Linked DNA regions of Homo sapiens. The protein of the gene in region 1 interacts with the protein of each later gene in a pairwise test. Each region holds a gene or a part of one and is shown on either strand. Other genes may lie near its edges.

Region 1 (3,725 bases):
ACAAAGGAGACTTAAATTGTATTCAAGGATGAAAATAAGGGTCTACTTTGAAAGAGAAGTGGACAGATGAGCATTCAATAAAGGAAGAGAGGGCAACAGGGAAGAATTACAAATTTCTTCACAACTTGGTACTACTAATTTCTCAAATTACTTTTAACCAGGCCAGTCTAAAAGTTGCAAATACAGCCCAGTTTGCTGTGCTGAATCTTGACTGAAATGTTAGTATGTGTGTATAGACTTATGTGTATTATTGGTACTTCATTAGATACTCATTTAATTCTCAGTAGTGGTACAAACCAATCCTGATGGAACATCTCAAGTTAGATTTCAAGGTCCTAGTTTGACTCGGAATGGAAGGAAATATGTGACAGCTGCCATTTAGTCAGCACATGGAAAATGTTTTCATTTTCTGGCTGCAAAAACTTGTGTGTTTTTACACCTCCCCTTCCACCAGCACCTCAAATAACTGTGACACTAAAAAAGTAGATATAATACTAAGAATAACCACTTAACCCACTCAACAGTTTCTTACATCAGATTTTATTATACTGAAATACAAGCTACATTTTTACAAAATAGAAATTCTTTGTGAGTGGATTGACTTAATTTTATTTCTGTATAAGCTAAATATGTTGATCTGTTTTATGAACATGTATTTTATAAAAATGGTCACAATATATTTTTTAAGTTAACTGATTTATTGAGGGAGGAGGAGAGAGTTGACCAAAGTCTACATGCATAGACAGTCCTAAAAGCGTATCTCAAACATGAAGATGTAAATTTGAGAGTTAATGATACAAATTTCAGCAAAAACATTTTACAGGCAGAGAGTGTTTTGGTGTTTATAAAAGCTGAACTCCTTTTGAAGGGCTTTTGTACAAATACACATGCTCATATACTATATGCATATATAGGTGTACTTCATTTTGAGAAAGTCCAGTATAATACTAGCATCAAATTTACAAAACAGGTTTAGTGTTGACTGACTGAAGAACTCACTACAGGTTTTACTTCAACTGCTTACATTCAAAAGTATTCAATTTACAAATTTTAGGTACTTACTGTGTAAGGTAAGTACATCTATACATAAATACTTTTATGCAGGTATAATATAAACATAGCAAATAGCTGAGGCTATTTTCTAAGGTGTTTGGCTTAGTGAACCTTTTTTACATCTTTATAGTTTTAAAGTCAAATACATAGCAGTCTTTATTTGGGTGTATGTTATCACAGAGGAATAAAAATCAGTAATGGGACTGGGAACAGTATACCCACTAAGTTAAATTAAGTCATTGGTTAAAACACCAAATTATTCAAAACCATTTAAGAGATATGCCCCACTAAATTCCCTCTGAATTTAGTCATTTACAGATGTTGTGTTTCGTATTCCTGTTCTCACCTTTGTGCCTGCTCCTTTGCAAACATTCTTTTCACACCAAATTCTTAGAACTGAATCAGAACTGCAGAAAATCCAACACCTTTTCTCTCCTCTGCACATGGCTACAAAAATTCTAATAGTAACAAGATAGTGTGAAAGACATACCTCTATATACTTTTTACTAGCATTGCATTTGCAAACTTACTTGAAATTACTTTTTTAAAAAAACAGGATTTCTATGGCGTCCTGTCCTTCAGGGTTCCTTCTAAGGTATGAATTGCTAAGAATTTTCTTTTCAGCTGCCTATATTTCATCAGCCTTGATAATTAATCATCTTTTATACTAAATTTGCCATATACTGACAAAGTCAAAGACCTGTAATAAACTAGACAAGCAAAAACTTTCTCTTAGCGGGACTAATGCTGTTAAAGGCAAATGGTTTCCTTTCCATTAAAACCATATTCCTGCCTGTTAAGTTACTGAGGTAACTCCAAAAAATTAAGCAGTAAAAAAGATCTCCATGGGATGTGCCCTAACACAAATTCTACTCGGCCTACTCAACCAGCACCGTAATTTTTAACATTCACTTAGCACCTATGGGTAATTAAACAGGCATCATCGGAGAATATTCCAGTTGCTAAATGGTACCCCATTATTAATTAGTACTATGCCATGGCTCTCTCTGAGTATTTCTCTGCTCAGTTCTAGTAATATCTTAGCAGTGATAAAAGTGTTTTGCCCAAATAGTTATTCTCATTTTGTTTCACTTTGATTGAAACAAACATTTGATTTTCTTTCATCATGTGCTGTCATACGGTGATATGGATTCAATAACTTAATCATAATGACCCCCCAAGATTAAGAAGAAAAAAAGCATCATTCAGCATCTCTCCTCTACCTTTTAATTTCTGTGTTAAGAGGGAAACAAAACCTTCAAAGGAGCAAGCCAAGTAGCTTTTCCTCTTCTCTAAACTTTACTGGAAATAAGGCATTAGAGGTGATTAGTGCTAATCTCACTTCTGTTCTCTCCTTTACTCCTTGACATCACTGTGTTCTACATGCAGTCCTCCAGGTCACCTGCTTCAAAACCATCAGTTCATTCAAAACAAAGATTTACTGGACCCTCTCTCAAAGGTACTGATTCAAAATCTCAGGAGGAAAGTAATGAAGGTCTACATTTTTAAAAATAAGCTTCCCAAGTGAAGGTTACTCACCAATAAGCTTAAGAACCACTACCCTATATATCATACAAAATAGCTGCCCAATGTTATAATTTTAGTTGTCCGATATCAGAATGTCAGCAGAGGATTAGGGCAAATCAGCTAAGCATGGTGGCTCACGCCTGTAATCCCAGCACTTTGGGAAGCCAAGGCAAGAGGATTACTTGAGGCCAGGAGTTAAGAGAGCAGCCCGGGCAACACAGCAAGACCCTGTCTCTACAAAAAAAATTTAAAAATTAGCTTAGTGCACTAGTAGTGCAGTCCCAGCTACCTGAGAGGCTGAGGCAGGAGGATCACTTGACTCCAGGAGTTGGAGGTTACAGTGAGCTATTGTGTGCCTGGACAGCAGAGCAAAACCCTGTCTCTTAAAAAAAAAAAAAAAAAAAAGATTAGGATAAATAAGTTTTAAGAGAGAGTCTATCACCAACGATCTGAGTGAGTTACATTAAAAACCTGTATGAAGAAAAAAGTATATGAGATGACAGCACTCTGGAAAAAGTGCATCTGTAAAACCAAACGTTTGGACTACATAGTATTTAAGATCCATTCCAGCTCCAAAATCCTGACTTCGTTTTTGTCTCCTCATACTGACAGTGGATGAAATGCAAATACATGTTTGCATTCCAGGGAATAAGAGGTTCCAAAGCTACCTCTAGTCTTGTCAGATGGCCCATAAAAACATGCTCTGTTGATCTGATTTTAACAACTCTAAAATAAAATCCTATGCTACACATATTCCTAAGTCCCTGTTCACAACCGGTCATTCTCCAATCTTGCCTTGGTACTTATTCTGCTGTAACTGTACTTATATTCCAGAACAAGAAATAGCTTTGCTAAACAAAGATTAGACTAACATATGCTATTACCTATAGTTTAATGTGTTAAGGAATAAACGGCAGACATAAGTTGAGTATTCAGGCTGAGGGCTTCTTTCCACCACCACAAGCTAAGCTCCATGAAGGCAGGGAATTTTGTTTACCTAGTACCTAGCACCTAGCTCAGTGTCTGATGCGTATTTGGCAATCAATGAATATTTGCTAAGTGCATAAATGAATGAGTGGATGTCATGAACCAAGTTCTTTTTCAGATACCTATATTATTCTACTACATACCTTAAAGTAAAGGCT
Region 2 (3,751 bases), on another chromosome or scaffold:
ATTTGGAACCATTGTTGAGTCTGTATTGGGGTCAAACGGTATTGCAGAAGAAAATAAGGCGTTTAGGTTTTAGGTCAGGTGTGAGTTGAAGAGGTTTTAAGTTCTTGAGAACACAGGCTAAGGGAGAAGAAGGGGGAATGGAGGGTGGAAGGTTGCCCATAGTGAAGGAGGCAAGCCCAGAGAAAAGAAGGTAGAGACCCGGAGAAGGGGGGTGGTGAGCAGCCCTGGGCTGCAATGTGGCTGAGCAGCCAAAGCAGGCGACCCACAATTGACTTGCCACCAAGGGAATGTGGGTGAATGACCAAGGCAGGCATCCCCACGGTGATCAGACACCAATGAAATGTACGTGAATAATCAGGCAGGTGTCCCTGCAGTGATTAAACACCAAGGGACGACTGTTTTCCTGAGTCCGTGACCGGAGCTGGAGTTTTGGGTCCATGGATAAAATATGTCTCCTTTGTCTCTACTAGAGAGGAGAAAGAACTGGAATTGGAAATAGAGGGAGATTTAAGGGTAGTGAGAGAGGCTGGAGAAGACAGTGAAAAGACCGCTTACCCGATTTGAAATTGGTGAGATGTTCCTTGGGCTGTTTGGTCTGAGGACCCGAGGTCATAGGTGGATCTCCTCACAGAGTGAGGGTGAGGACAGGGGACTGGTCTCCTGAAGGAGTCCTCCTGTCCCGGGTCTTCGGCACCAAATGTCACACGTGTCCGTGTGAAGAGACCACCAAAAGGCTTTGCGTGAGCAATAAAGCTGTTTATTTCACCTGGGTGCAGGTGGGCCGAGTACGAAAAAAAGAGTCAGCAAAGGGAGTTAGGGGTGTGGTAGCTTTATAGGATTTGTGTGGGTAGTGGAAAATTACAGTCAAAGGGGGTTGTTCTCTGGTGGGCAAGGCGGGGGCCGGGGGGGTGGAAGGTCTACAAAGTGCTCAGTGGGGGAGCTTCTGAGCCAGGAGAAGGAATTTCACAAGGTAATGTCATCAGTTAAGGCAGGAACCAGCCATTTTCACTACCTTTGTGATTCCTCAGTTGCTTCAGGCCATCTGGATGTATACATGCAGGCTTGGGCTCAGAGGCCTGACACAAGTTGGCACATTTGATCCTATCAACTTTAGTTTGCACTTTCACTTTTGATTTAAGAACATACTTTCTGTTTCTCAGAGGGCAGCCTCTGATGGGAATTTTAATACTCACAAGCATCAGTGGCTATATGATTGAATGTACTTCTTCAGTGTGAGTAAGTGACAACTTTCTGTAGCATGATATCCCTTATGGACACGATCCCCATTCAAAACGTTTTAAAACTATTTTATTGGGGACATTTATTAGCATGTTAAAACTCTTTTACAACCTATTAGAGCATATGCATAGAACATAAAATGTACACTGCCAAGAACAAATTTAAGGATAGGAAGAAAAGCTTACATTTTTTAAAAAGTATAAATTGAAATGTATGCAGTGTAATTTAAATTTGATTACGTTAACCTCCATTTCATCAGGACCACGTGTCGCGTTTTAACAAGAGTTTCCCTATCATGTCCAGGCTTTGGCTCTGGTTGCAGGCGCTGGGTAGGCACTTTTACGAGGAGGGACCTGGCACGATGGCACCACAAATTCCCAAGTGTGTCACCTCTGGGCGAACTTGGGCCTGTCCACTCGGCCCTGCGCGGTGGCCAGGGGCTCACCCTCTCGCACCGGGCGTCCCTCTGCGCGCAGCTTCTCTCGCCCCCCCGCGCCAGACCCGGGCGAATGGCAGCACCGTGGGACCCTGCCTTGACCGCCCCCGCCCTTCGGCGGCCTCTCCCAGCAGCCGGCAGGCTCTTGGGCGCGCCAACAGAGGGGCGCGGCTGCGGCTGTAGTCGCAGCCAGTTCCCGTTCCGGGCCCGCGAGGCAGCCGCCCCGGTCCTGCCCCTCCCTCGCGCTACTGCGGGAGCAGCGTCCTCCCGGGCCACGGCGCTTCCCGGCCCCGGCGTCCCCGGACCATGGCGCTCTCCGGGCTCTTCTCTAGCTCTCAGCGGCTGCGAAGTCTGTAAACCTGGTGGCCAAGTAAGTCCCAGCGACTGGGGATTCGCGCGGGGCAGGCCCTTTCTGAGGTCCTGGGCGCTGCGAGTGAGGAGGCGCAGGGAGGCGGGATTTGCGTGCGGGCGGAACGCAGCGCGGCTCTGGAGGAGCTCTGGGTGGAACCAAGCGGAGAAACCCGCGAGTTTGAAGCATGTAGCGAAAGTTGAGAGGGATGAACTTCACAGTCAGCGGAATCGTTTATCCCACTGTGGTCGAACGCAGGGGTTCTCAATCGTGCCAGCAGCTTAGAACCACCTGGGGAGCTTTTAAAATCCAGATATCCAGGCTGCACCCTAGATCAATTCCATCAGAATCTCACGGAGTCAGACCCAGGCCTCCGTATCTTTTAAAAGCTCCCCAAGTGATTCCAGTGTGCAGCCAGCGTTCGAGGGTTTGTGGCAAAGGCTGGAAGGGCAGACAGGGGCCTTCATGGAGTCCCGCCTGCAGACGGGACAGCAGCTCCCAGTGTCCTGCTTGGTCCTGGAGAGAGGGTGAGAACTTCCCTTGGGTTTCATGCTCCACAAAGTAAGGAAATGAGACAATGCTTGGCAAGGTCGCCTGAATATCACATTCAAAAACGCCTCCAATGTGTGCAGTTGTTTTGGCACATTGTGAAAAACATAGGAAATGACAGAGGTTGATGTCTCATTAGCTCTGCATTCTAGGAAACATTTCGGTTGTTGGTGTTTGAAATTAAGTCTGGGGAAGCTAAGCTAGTAAACCCATGGCCTTGATGACTTCTGGCCTTTCTGCTTTAAGGGTGAAGCCAGGGCCGGGCGCGGTGGCTCACGCCTGTAATCCCAGCACTTTGGGAGGCCAAGGCAGGCGGATCACCTGAGGTCGAGAGTTCGAGACCAGCCTGGCCCAACATGGTGAAACCGTCTCTACTAAAAAAAAAAAAAAAAAAAATTAACCGGGCGTGGTGGCGCATGCCTGTAATCCCAGCTACTCGGGAGGCTGAAGCAGGAGAATTGCTTGAACCCGGGAGGCAGAGGTTGCAGTGAGCCGAGATCGCCCTGTTGCGCTCCAGCCTGGGCAACAAGAGCAAAACTCCGTCAAAAACAAACAAACAAACAAAAAACAAAAAAACGGTGAAGCCAGAAGTCGTGCTTGCCAAAGGGTCGAGTTTGTTCTCCCTCAAAGCCCCTGTTGAAGATTGAACTATCACTTTCAGGGAAGAGTAAAAGAGTAACTCCACGATGCATCTTAGAGAGGAGTGGATTCCCTGTTCTCACCCAGGCTTAGATGCCAGGGGCCAGGTAGCTGAAATCCAGGCAAACCAGGCATTGACAAAGTACAGACTTCTACCGAATATGCCAGACAGATAAGCAAGCTGTGTTTAAAACAAACAGCAGAGTGGTAGAAGAGGGCTCTTTCAAATATTGTAAGAAGAGTAGGTTTTATTTTTGTGGAGTGGAGAAATAAGTTCACGCTTTGGAACCCATCAAATCTGGGTCAAAACTCGGATTCTGTCACTTCTATGCTGTGACTTTGGGCAAGTTCCTTGACCTCTCCAAGCCCCTGTTTTCCCACCTGTAAAATAAAGAGCAACCCTCTCCTGAGGCTAGCATAGTTCAGCGAGATGATGTGCATCACACACCTGGAAGGTGGTGGCGCTGGCAGGTGCTCTGGCAGAGGTAGTTATTAGACACTGGAGTGGCAGTTTGTGCCCGTTAATTGTTTACTTAGTA

Evidence for each region. Proteins that work in one complex are often made in the same cells at the same time.
Region 2: the proteins of SUGT1 (region 1) and NOD1 interact in binary tests that used the Homo sapiens proteins (3 or more experiments, as listed by UniProt).

What each region holds. Positions count from the first base shown.
Region 1 is NC_000013.11:52,697,709-52,701,433, reverse strand, and holds the end of SUGT1 (protein SGT1 homolog), read right to left. Parts: 3' UTR 525-3,725; downstream 1-524. UniProt on the Homo sapiens protein: May play a role in ubiquitination and subsequent proteasomal degradation of target proteins.
Region 2 is NC_000007.14:30,476,900-30,480,650, reverse strand, and holds the start of NOD1 (nucleotide-binding oligomerization domain-containing protein 1), read left to right. Parts: upstream 1-1,866; 5' UTR 1,867-2,045; intron 2,046-3,751. UniProt on the Homo sapiens protein: Pattern recognition receptor (PRR) that detects bacterial peptidoglycan fragments and other danger signals and thus participates in both innate and adaptive immune responses.